Regions from separate parts of the Homo sapiens genome. Here region 2 is linked to region 1. Evidence: fine-mapped expression QTL. A gene starts in region 1. The other region holds a variant in brackets. All regions are shown on one strand. Distances are between the middles of the regions.

Region 1 (5,376 bases):
GCCTGAAGCAAGCTACCACATCACTCTGCTTTTGTGACCTGTAAAATGAGGCGACTAAAACGGACTTAATAGATCTGTTTCAGGATTAAATGATACAATGCATGAAAAACACTCAGCACAAAGATGGCACAGAACAGGGATTCCATGCTGGAGCTATTATTACTGTTTGCTCCCCTGTTCTCAGGCCCACAAGGCTCTGCCACCTCACCCTGCTCACTGGACGCCTTCCTCACCAGGGCCTTCCTGACTCTTCCTCGCCCACCCCAGACAAGCCAAATTCAGGACTGCACCCTGGCCTCTCTCTCACTCTCTACTGCACTGATTTTTTTTGCCTGTGTACTCCCCACCAGACCAGGAACTCCTTGCGGACAGAGAACGCATCAAGGGTCGTCAATCTCATTACCTGTTGGAGTCACCTGGGGCCAGATTCTGGGACTAGGCATCAGCACGTTGTCCAGCTCCCAGCTGATGGCAGCGTGCGTCCAGGGCGGAGAGGTCGTGCTACTCAGGTGTGCACTGAGGACCAGCCGCGTCAACATCACTGCGGCTTCTTAGCAAAACCGCGGACTCTGGAAACCCCAGACCTACAGAATCAGAACCCGCATTTTAGCCAGATCCCCAGGAAGGGAAAGCACAGGAACGAATGCCAGTGAAGTGTGAGTCGACCTCCTTCTATCCCCAGAGCTCAACATAATTCAAACACCCAGTGGGTGTTGAGTGGGGGTTCGCTGACTAATTGACTGAGTGAGTGAAGCCCTGTGTCAGCTTCCACTGGGATTTCACACCTACTCCATCATGTGCTATGAAACAAACAGGCTCAAAAAGCAAACCCGTAAAACGTTCAGAAATTCAAAAATAGACACAGACCTAAGTTGATAGAACAAATAGCTGCAAAATGGTGCGGTTTTTAAATGAAATACCTGACGGGTTTTTAAAGATTTATTACCACCGGGCTCTGTGCCATTAAACCTCCGAGTACACTAGAGGATAATTTTGTTTTGTTTTAAGGTTGGTAATTGTGAAAAGCTGGGAAACCAGGACTGGCCCCTGGGAGGATCCTGTCCACCGGTGTGGCTTGGGCACAGTCTCTGGGTGGCTGGGGCCGCTGGCCCGCCCTTCCTCCAGGAAGAGAGACCCGCTGGCGGGGAGTCCCCGGCACTGCCAACGGCCTCCCCACGCCCGTTCCCTGGGGACAGGGCCTCTGTCTCCCCTCCGCAGGCCCCTCCTGGCTCTCACCCTCCCACCCCGCATCCCCCAGCCCCGCCTCCTCCGCAGCCGCAGAGCTGCAGCTGGCCAGGGGGCCACACCCAGGCGTCGAGCACCGCCTTATCCAGCCGCACTGGGGGCTTCGTCCCCTGCGGGGTGAGGGGTCTCCCCTGTGTCACCCTCCGAGGCCACGCTAGACGTTGTGGCGCTCAGGGCTCCCGGTTCCTGCCGCGCTGGGGCTCCCCCGTCCCAGCCTCCCTCCCCACCTCTCCCAGGCTCCCCTCCCCTGTCGCAGCCACCCTCCCCCGTCCCAACCTCCTCCCCTTCTCTCGCACGATCCGGCCAAGAGATGGCGGGGTGGCGGGAGGGGCGCTCTGGCGACCCCGGAAGCGAGAAGCAGGCCTCTGCAGGGCCAGGGATGAAGGTGCAAGGGAAAGCCCTGGGACCTGGACCTTAGGCGTGGGAGGGACGAAAGGGAAAGGTCTTAGAAAATTCCTCAGGCGTGGCTTCTGGGGGGGCGGGGCGGGGGGAGGAAAGGGGCACGGGTTCCCGGTCTCGTAGACGCTGCAGCGGAGCAGAGCCTCTAGGCATGCCCTCATCTAGAGCAGCTGCTGCGGAATCCGGGGAGCCTGCAGCACTAGCCGTGCGATTCCGGGCGAGGTTTTTAAACTCTCACCTGTTTTCCCCTTTTGTAAACTGAAGATAATGCCTCTCTCCCGGGAGTGGGAGCACGATGCTGACACACCGTAGGAACTCGGGACTTGCTGATTCTCCTTCCTTATCCTCAAGGCGTTTGAAGCACTCCTGCCCCTCACCCCCACCCCTCCAGCCCCTTTCCCAGCCCTGCCCCCTGGTGGAAAATCCTAAGAGCTACCTCTCAGGAGGGCTCCTGTAAACCAGGCACTGTACACACACCTTTCATTTCATCTTCGCAGCAGCTCTTTTTGGTGAGTACTGTTATCCCCATTTTGCAAATAAAGCAACGGAAGCTTAGAGAAGTAACTTTTCCAAATGTGCCTCAGCTCCAGGCAAAATAGGAACCTAGGTCATCTGATGCCAGAGTCAGCCTTCCTAACTGTTTATGATCCGACTTCCCTTTCTGTACTGGATTTTCTATTTCTGCCATAACAGATGACCACAGACATAGTGGCTGGAAACAGCACCCACTTATCAGCTCACAGTTCTGTAGGTCAGAAGTCCAGGCTTGATGCGACTGTGTCCTCTGCTCTGTTCCCACAAGGCCAAAACCAGGGTGTCAGCGAGGCCAGCATTCTCATGTGGAACTCAGGGCCCCCTTCAAGCTCCTGTGGTTCTGGCAGAATTCAGGTCTTTGTGGTTGTAGGACTGAGGTCCTCACTTTTTTGCTGGCTATCATCTGGGGGCTGCTCTCAGCTCCCAGAGGTCACCCACATTCCTTGCCGTGTGGCCCCCTCCATCTTTAAAACCAGCAAAGGAGAAGCCCCCTCTGTCTAATTCCTCTAATAATTTGAATCTCTTACTTCGGGAAAAGCCCAATCCCTTCAAAGGGCTTGTGATTGGGTCAAGCTCACCCCAGATGAACTTTCTTTCTTCAGTTCAGCTCTGCCATATGACATGCCCCAGTCATGGGAGTGAGGATTTCCTGGGGTTCCTCAGGGGGTGTATACCAGGGGGCAGGAATCACGAGGGTGTGTTGGAATTCTGCCTACTTACAAGTGCCTTCTCTGTCCCCAGCATGTATTCTGGTGTTACATTCAAGTGTAACACCTCGAATGCTTCCTGCTAACCCTAAAGGGCCTTGAGGGGACTGGGGCAGCCTGTTCACCAACCAGTTTGGAGCATTTTCCTATGAGTACAGTCATATATATTCCCACAGAAGAGTATACAAATATCTCCATATGAGACATAAGCACGCCCTCCTCCATTCCTCTTCCTCCAACTTCATCCCGTGTTTCAAAGCTCAGAGAGTGGTACATTTTGATCCAGCATATCTTAGAAAGTAGGAAATTGATAAAGATGCTTGTGATCACAGATAGGGAGACTGAGTCTGTGAAAAGACTCCCAAGCCAGTGGTCTCTCCAGGAAGCCCTGCTGACCCCCAAGCAAGGCTCTTACCAAGTTGTTAGGGCCCTGACTCCTGACATTCTAGACCACGCCATGACACCAAGTTTTCCTCCCTGTGGGTGCGTGATGTTTGACATTCTTCATTCAGAGGTCCATCTAAATGGATGTCACATTCACTAACGCATCATCTGAAATACAACTTCCTTTGATTTTGCCTCTTTTGAGTCTTTCTCCACTTGTGTTTTCCTATCAAAGGGATTAAACCACTTTGCTGGACTTGAAGCTCTGTCTTTTCCAAAAGCTTTCATCATGTCTCAACACAGCTTCCCATTCACAGACACAGGAGAGGATGGAAGAAGAGAAGTATCAGGCTTGATGAGGCTTAATAGGATTTGCTCAAGTCAGTGCCTTTCCCTGCGTCCTGCAGAGAGTAGCTAGGATGCTCAGCTTACCTAGGCCAGCCACAGCATTCCTCCCTGTCTGTCCTCTACAGACAGTTCTGCAAAAACCCTAGCTTCAAAGAGGAAATGCTAGAATATCAACTATGGGAGGGCTGGCTCTGCGTTTATCTTCTTCACTGCTTTATGTCCAGCTCCTAGCACAGGGGTTTGGCTATAGTAGTTCCTCAATTAATGTGTGCTTAATGAGTGCATAATTAATAGAACGGATCTCGAAAACCTGATTAAAGAATTTCATCTCCATTGTCCCTGAAAATCCTTTTGACTTGATAGGCACACAACACTGGAAGCCAGGGTTTCAAGGATGGGGATTTTACTTACCCTTAAAAGAAATCTAAACAGTAGAGGCTGCATGCTGGTCAGCTCAATGCTTGCCCTGCAAATTGCCCACTGGGCCTTTAGCTATTTGTCTTAGATAATCTCTACCTCTCTTTCTTCATCTTTAAAATGGGGTTAATGGGATATTGCATTAAATTTCAATTTGAGGAGAGATTATGAATACGTATGTTTATTTTATTTATACTTATGTTTGTATCATGTATTCTTTCCATGAATCCCTACAATTGGCTCCCAGGGCTGGAGGAGCAGAGGATATTATCTGGGATTTATAGCAGAGTAAACTGAGGCAAAGAAAGTTAAGTTTGTTTGTATTTGGACCACAAAGCTGGTTTGTTGGACACTGAGTCAGAATCCAGATGTTACCCTGGGTTGAGCAAGGGATGACTTCTGCGGATGATTCCAGCGCACAGGAATGCGTCCCAATATCAAATCAAAAGTAAACCACCCTTTCCTATCTGCCAGACGCAAAAAGTTTTCCTATCTGGGCTGAAGTCTCCTAGAAAACATTTTCCCGTTTCTAGTACGGCACAAAGCCTTCGCCTACAAGAATGTATGCAAGTATGTTTAAAAATAAAGAAGGAAACAGTGCAGAAAATCAGCAGCAAGCTGTTTCCCCAAAGAGCTGAGTACAGGAGGATGTGAGCTCCCATGTGCCCCGGCCAATGACTCATTCTTGTGGCACTGTGCCTGCCCTGCCCAACCTCAGTGGCTCAGGGAGTCCGCAGCGGCACCCCCATTGGAAGCCTATCTTGGTTCCAACAGCTGGGGTGTCCAGAATACACGGGGCCTCGGGACAGCAGCATTTTCCATCATCTCTGAGCATCTGTGATTGAGTTTTCAGGATGAAGTCTCCCACTTAAGGCAGAGCAAATTCCTGCTTGGGATTCTGCAAAGATAGCCCCAAGCATTTTCCTCCTTGTCTCATTTATCCTTGTTAACTGCCACATGAAGGAGCAGGAAGCAGGTGGCCCTATGCAGAATGGGAAATGGCCAATGGACATCTGGGACAAAGCCCTTCAGATGACCTTTTGATATGATGTTTTAAAGGTTATCTTGAAATTGCTATAATCACCCAGGCAGCACAGGAAAAGGCCTGCCAGGGTCATCTGACTCCCCAGGACAGCTGGGATCTACCTTGGTTTGCCATTAGGCAGTCAGCTCAGTGGTTGACAGGCCTTTTTCCAGGTTGTTCTACTGGGGACACAGCTTCCCGGTGTTCTGCCTGGTGGAACCTGCAGCTGGAGTCACCCTCAGAATGGTGGCAGGGGAATTCCTGCAAGGGACTGCCCAAACCATCCCCAAATGGGGTCAGTTGAGATTCCAAAGAAGA
Region 2 (5,376 bases), 21 kb before region 1:
CGATGATTAAAAGGGCTACCCAGTGTTCCGTACAGTGGATGAAAACAGTCCCACACCAAGGCACATCGTTGTGAAATTTCACACCACTACTCACTAAGAGAAGATCTGGCTAGTTTCCAGAAAGGAAAAAGAGGACCCGCAAAAGGATCAGGAATGAAACTTGCTTCGGGCTTCTAACAATATAATTGAAATGTGGAAGAAGAAGAAATCCCTCTAACATACCGAAGAAAAATAATTTCCCATTTAGAATTCTACACCTGCCCAAGTTGTCAATTGAATAGAATAGAGATATTCTCAGATATGCAGAATCTCAAAATTGTACCTTGCCCACTCTCTTTCCTAGGAAGCAATGGTAGGACGTGTTCTTCCTAAAAAGTAAGAGAGTGAACCAAGAAAGAAACACGCATGGGATTCAGGAAACAGGGGATGCAATATGGGAGTGAGGCAAAGCAAACAGAGATGCCAGGAAGCCAGCTGTGCGCTAGGCAGAGAGGGCAACCAGGCCAGACCAAAGGGAGCAGAAGGCACCAGGGAGATTTCTCCAGATGGAATCAGTAGGACTTCTGGTGCATCTGGACATCTTGAGAGGAGATTGAAATGGTAGGTGGAAATTTTTGCATTGAAATTGGTGATGAGGCCAGGCATGGTGGCTCATGCCTGTAATCTCAGCACTTTGGGAAGCTGAAGAAGGCAAATCACTTGAGGTCAGGAGTTTGAGACCAGCCTGGCCAACATGAGGAAACCCTGTCTCTATCCAAAATACAAAAATTAACCAGGCATGGTGGCGCGTAACGCACACCTGTAATCTCAGCTATTCAGGAAGCTGAGACAGGAGAATTGCTTGAATCCAAGAGGCAGAGGTTGCAGTGAGCCAAGATCGCACCATCGCACTCCAGCCTGGGTGACAGAGCGAGACTCCATCCCCCCAAAAAAGAAAAAAGAAATTGGCGATGAGAGCAAACACAACTACACAAACCAAACCAAGACAATTAATTAGTCCCTCCAGAGAAGAAAAAGAGTTGTGCAGGAAAGACAAAGCAATCTGGTTTGCTGCATGGATCAGCTACATACAAACAGAACTTTATAGACATAAAAATATTAAAACTGAGTATTCATCCAACCAAAATTGTGACACAGCTCCCTTGCTGGACGAGAAATGGGAAGTATGTGAGCACGTGGTGGGTTCAGGGGAGGAAAGGGAGCCACGTTTCCATCTTCAGTGGTAGAAAGTTCATAGGTCGTCTCTGAAGATGGAAGCATCTATAAGTATTACTAGAAGGGTGTCATTTACAGACAAAAACCAAAGGGAAAAAATAGCCAAAAGAAATGAAAGTGATGACCTCTGCAGATTGGAAGATGGTCAAAGAGGAAACCCAACTGCTTTTGTTTCAAATTATTTAGAAAAATGTGATGCTTCAAATATATTACTTTCATATATCACTTTTTTTTTTTTGACACGGAGTCTCGCTCTGTCACCCAGGCTGGAGTGCAGTGGCACGATCTCGGCTCACTGCAACCTCCACCTCCCGGGTTCAAGCGATTCTCCTGCCTCAGCCTCCCGAGTAGCTGGGACTACAGGCATGTGCCACTACGCCCAGCTATTTTGTGTATTTTTAGTAGAGACGGGGTTGGTTGGCCAGGATGGTCTCGATCTCTTGACCTCGTGATCCGCCCGCCTCGACCTCCCAAAGTGCTGGGATTACAGGAGTGAGCCACCGTGCCCGGCCAATATATTACCTTAATAAAACAAAAACTAAAGATCAAGGTAAGTAAATACATGTGTTCTACCTAGTGTGAAATCTCTTTCAAACACTAGATGGTGCTGTTGCCCCCCTTGTGGAAACCACACCGGGGCAGGGCAGGTGCTTGCTGGTCAGCATGTCTATGGAGTTTTCCACAAAACAGAATTAAGAGAGTTGTTATGAAAAAAGTTAGGAAGGAATTAAAGTTGTTCATTTTCTTTCCTTGCCAAATAGGAGCCCACTTCACTGGATAGGAAGAAAAACATCATTTGCCCCTAGCGGTGCAATAACTGGAAGCTCAGCGCTGGGCACCAAGCTGAGTCCTGGGGCTAAGTGCTGTGCCCTCTAGAAACAGATGTTGACTCGATAAAGTCAACTGTATGGCCAGCTGTGGCAAATGCCTCTCTCAGGCACCTGGGCCTGGACTCAAGAGTGAGAGGAAATTCAGGAACGGGAAGCTTGTTTCAGGGAAGCTGAAGCTACCATTGGTGCTCCCTATGGTCAGAATTCAATGGCATTAAAGGAACAGTGAATTTGGGATCATCCAA[T/A]GACAAGTGGGAAGCTTATGCACTGGGAGAAGTCAAGGCATCAACATGAATATCAGGCCACTTTCCCAGAGAGCATGTCTGTTTTGAGTTGTGAGATGAATAGGAGGCCTCTTTAACACATCCTGCAAAGTCACTAATGACAGCTTGATGGCCTGGTCAATGATTAGGGGTTTTTTTTCCCATTGGCCCTATTTTCCATGACTTTTCTGGATCTGTACTTACCTACTTTGGACCTCTGCTGTGTTGCACACAGGTTTCATGGGATAAATACTATGAAAGAAATATTCTATTAACGAGGGACGCCGGCACACTGGCCACTCAATTTTCTTGCCACTCTTCCTTTCCAGGTCATTCTGCCACCCCAGCCTTGCTGACCTCCAGCCATCCTGATCACTCCTCTATCTCCTGTTCTGTATCCTTCTCCCTCTGTCCCAGATCTGAGCATAGTTCCCAGCTCTTGCCTCTTCTCCTTCTCTCTCCACCCTCCTCCAGATACCTAAATTATTTCTCAGAGTTTCAGTCTTCTCCTCTCTGCGGATGACATTCCAAAATCTCCACCCCATCCTCAACTCCCCCGTCATCACCAGACATCCATTCCTGCCTCTTCTCAGACAACTCCACTTAGGCAATTAGTGGAGTTGCCACTTTTTGTGGAGTTGCAATTAGTGGAGTTGCAATTAGTGGAGTTCTCACCAACCTTCAGTTAGACATGCATGCAGCATGTCTAGAATCAAACTCAGCAGCTCTCCCGTCCCAGTCACCTACTCCTGCTAATTTTCTCATTCCTGACATCAGGCATGCACGCATTCAATAAACATTTACTTGGGTTTTAAAAAACAAGGTTTACACCCTTAAGGAACTTGTAGATTGCAGGTAGAGGAGAGAGACAGGTCACAGAACCCCCAACACATGTGATCGGCGCTCTATCAGAGGGAAGCGGAGGGGTCAAGGTGTCCACAGAGGAGGGGATCTCAGTGCCTCTGGAGATTCAGGGGAGCTTAGCCCAGCTCAGCTCCAAGCCATCCAGTTTCATTCCTCTTCTCCTTTGGGCTCCTGTTGACCCTTTCTCAGCCACATCTTCTACATCATGCTCTTCCAAGCCCCAGTGTGCATAGTCACCTGGAGAGCTTGTTAAAAGGCAAATTCTCTTTGAGCAGGTGGAGGGTGGAGCCTGAGATTCCGCATTTCATACATGATCCCAGGGGGTGGCACTGTTGCCGCCAGACTGTGCAACCCACTACCCGTCCCAAGGCTCTTTCTTCCTTTGCCTTGTTGCAGCCTTATCACCTCAGGCCAGCACTAGGGCCCAGCCCACGAACGCTCTCCCTGCCTCCAATCCTAGACTGTGCAATACAGTAGCTGCCAGCCATAGTGCCTACTTAAATGCAAATTAATTAAAATTTAAAATTCCCTTTCCTATTCACAGTAGCCACATTACACCTAGGCAGTAGCCACAATGCCACATTATACAGACAAGATATCAGGCATTTTCTTCATTGCAAAAGTTCTGTTGGGTGGCACTGCACAATAATCTCAGCTCCACCTAAACTAACCACAAACTGACTACCAGCCTCACCACACTCTCAGCTCCTTGAAGGCAAGTTCTGTATTTGTCTTGTCATTTTTCTCTAAGTGCAGAACCTACCCCATATCCTTTCTTTCATTTGACAAATATTTATTGATCATCTCCTATGTAGCAGATGCTGTGCTTAGCACTGCTAAGGGGCACCCAGAGGTGAACAAGACAAACAGGGTCCCTGTCATTGCAGAGGTCACAAAGCACGTGCTCCATAAGTCTTCACTGAAATGAATAAATGAATGAATCATACACAGACAACCCCCAGGGAAATCTTCACAATGATTTTCATAATTCTCCCCAACTCAGAAATTCTTAATACTTGCTTTCAATCTGCAGAAGAAAATCCAGATGCCACAGCCTGGGATATGAGGCTCTTCTGAGAGGCAGAGATGCGTGGTTAATGTCTTCGTTTGTTAGGGCTGCCATAACAAAACATCACTGACGGGGTGGCTCAAGTAGAAATTGATTTCCCACAGCCCTGGAAGTTAGGAGTCCAAGATCAAGGTTGTCAACAAAGTTGGTTTCTCCTGAGGCCTCTGCTCGGCTGGGAGACAGCTGCCTTCTCCTAGTGTCCTCAAAGTAGTTCCTCTTCTTATGAGGATACCAGTCAGATTGGATTAGGACTCACCCTAATGGTCTTAGTTTAATTAATTCTTTTTTTTTTTTTTTTGAGATGGACTCACTCTGTTGCACAGGCTGGAGTGCAGTGGCACGATCTTGGCTCACTGCAACCTCCGCCTCCCAGGTTCAAGGGATTCTCCTTCCTCAGACTCCCGAGTAGCTGGGTCTACAGACATGCCCAGCTAATTTTGTATTTTTAGTAGAGACAGAGTTTCCCCACGTTGGCCAGTCTGATCTGAAACTCCTGACCTCAGGTGATCCACCCACCTCGGCCTCCCAAAGTATGAGATTATGGGCATGAGCCACCACACCCGGCCCCTTAGTTTAATTTAATCACCCCTTTAAAGGCCCCATGTCCAAATACAGTCACATTCGGAAGCACTGGGAATCAGGGCTTCAACATCTGAATTTGGGAGAGACACCGTTCATCTCATAACAATTAGAAATATGATCTTGGAAACTAACAAAACTGGGTTCTGCTAGCAGGTCTGAAATTCCTGCCAGTGTGAGGGGACTTGACTTGTCTGAGCCTGTTTTCTCTCCGGAGAAAGGTGCTAAAGCTACCTCCCTCCCGAGGCTGTCGAGAAAATTACAAGCAATTACTTACGTGAAGCATCGAGCAGAGCTCAGCACATAGTAGGCACTGCGTTAATTACAGCCACTGGCATCACCACTTTACCGCCCAGATCCCCCAGCAGCAACCCTTCCCTTTCTTGTGGTCCCTGAGCACCCTGAGCCTTGCCTGCCCAAGCCTTGATTTCCAGCCCGGCTCCTTGACTCCTCTCCCTCTCATCACATTCAAACCTTAGTCTTCCTTCCCTAAGTCCTTCAGACCTTCCTTCTCTGCGTAGCCTTGCCGTCAGAAGTCAGTCCCAGCTCCTCTTCT

Evidence for each region.
Region 2: its variant is fine-mapped to the expression of KCNJ5-AS1 in nasal epithelium (TOPMed, PIP 0.96).

Annotation. Positions count from the first base shown.
Region 1 is chr11:128,904,028-128,909,403 of GRCh38, forward strand. KCNJ5-AS1 (KCNJ5 antisense RNA 1) reads right to left here and starts at 2,204. Exons shown (of 4, transcript NR_045767.1): 1 at 2,122-2,204; 2 at 404-584. All of the region lies in intron 1 of KCNJ5 (potassium inwardly rectifying channel subfamily J member 5), which reads left to right. RefSeq lists a silencer at 1,069-1,138.
Region 2 is chr11:128,883,079-128,888,454 of GRCh38, forward strand. No RefSeq gene overlaps it. Among named protein-coding and RNA genes, the nearest start is that of KCNJ5, 5.6 kb to the right of the region's middle. The variant T/A (reference allele first, on the strand shown) is at 2,291.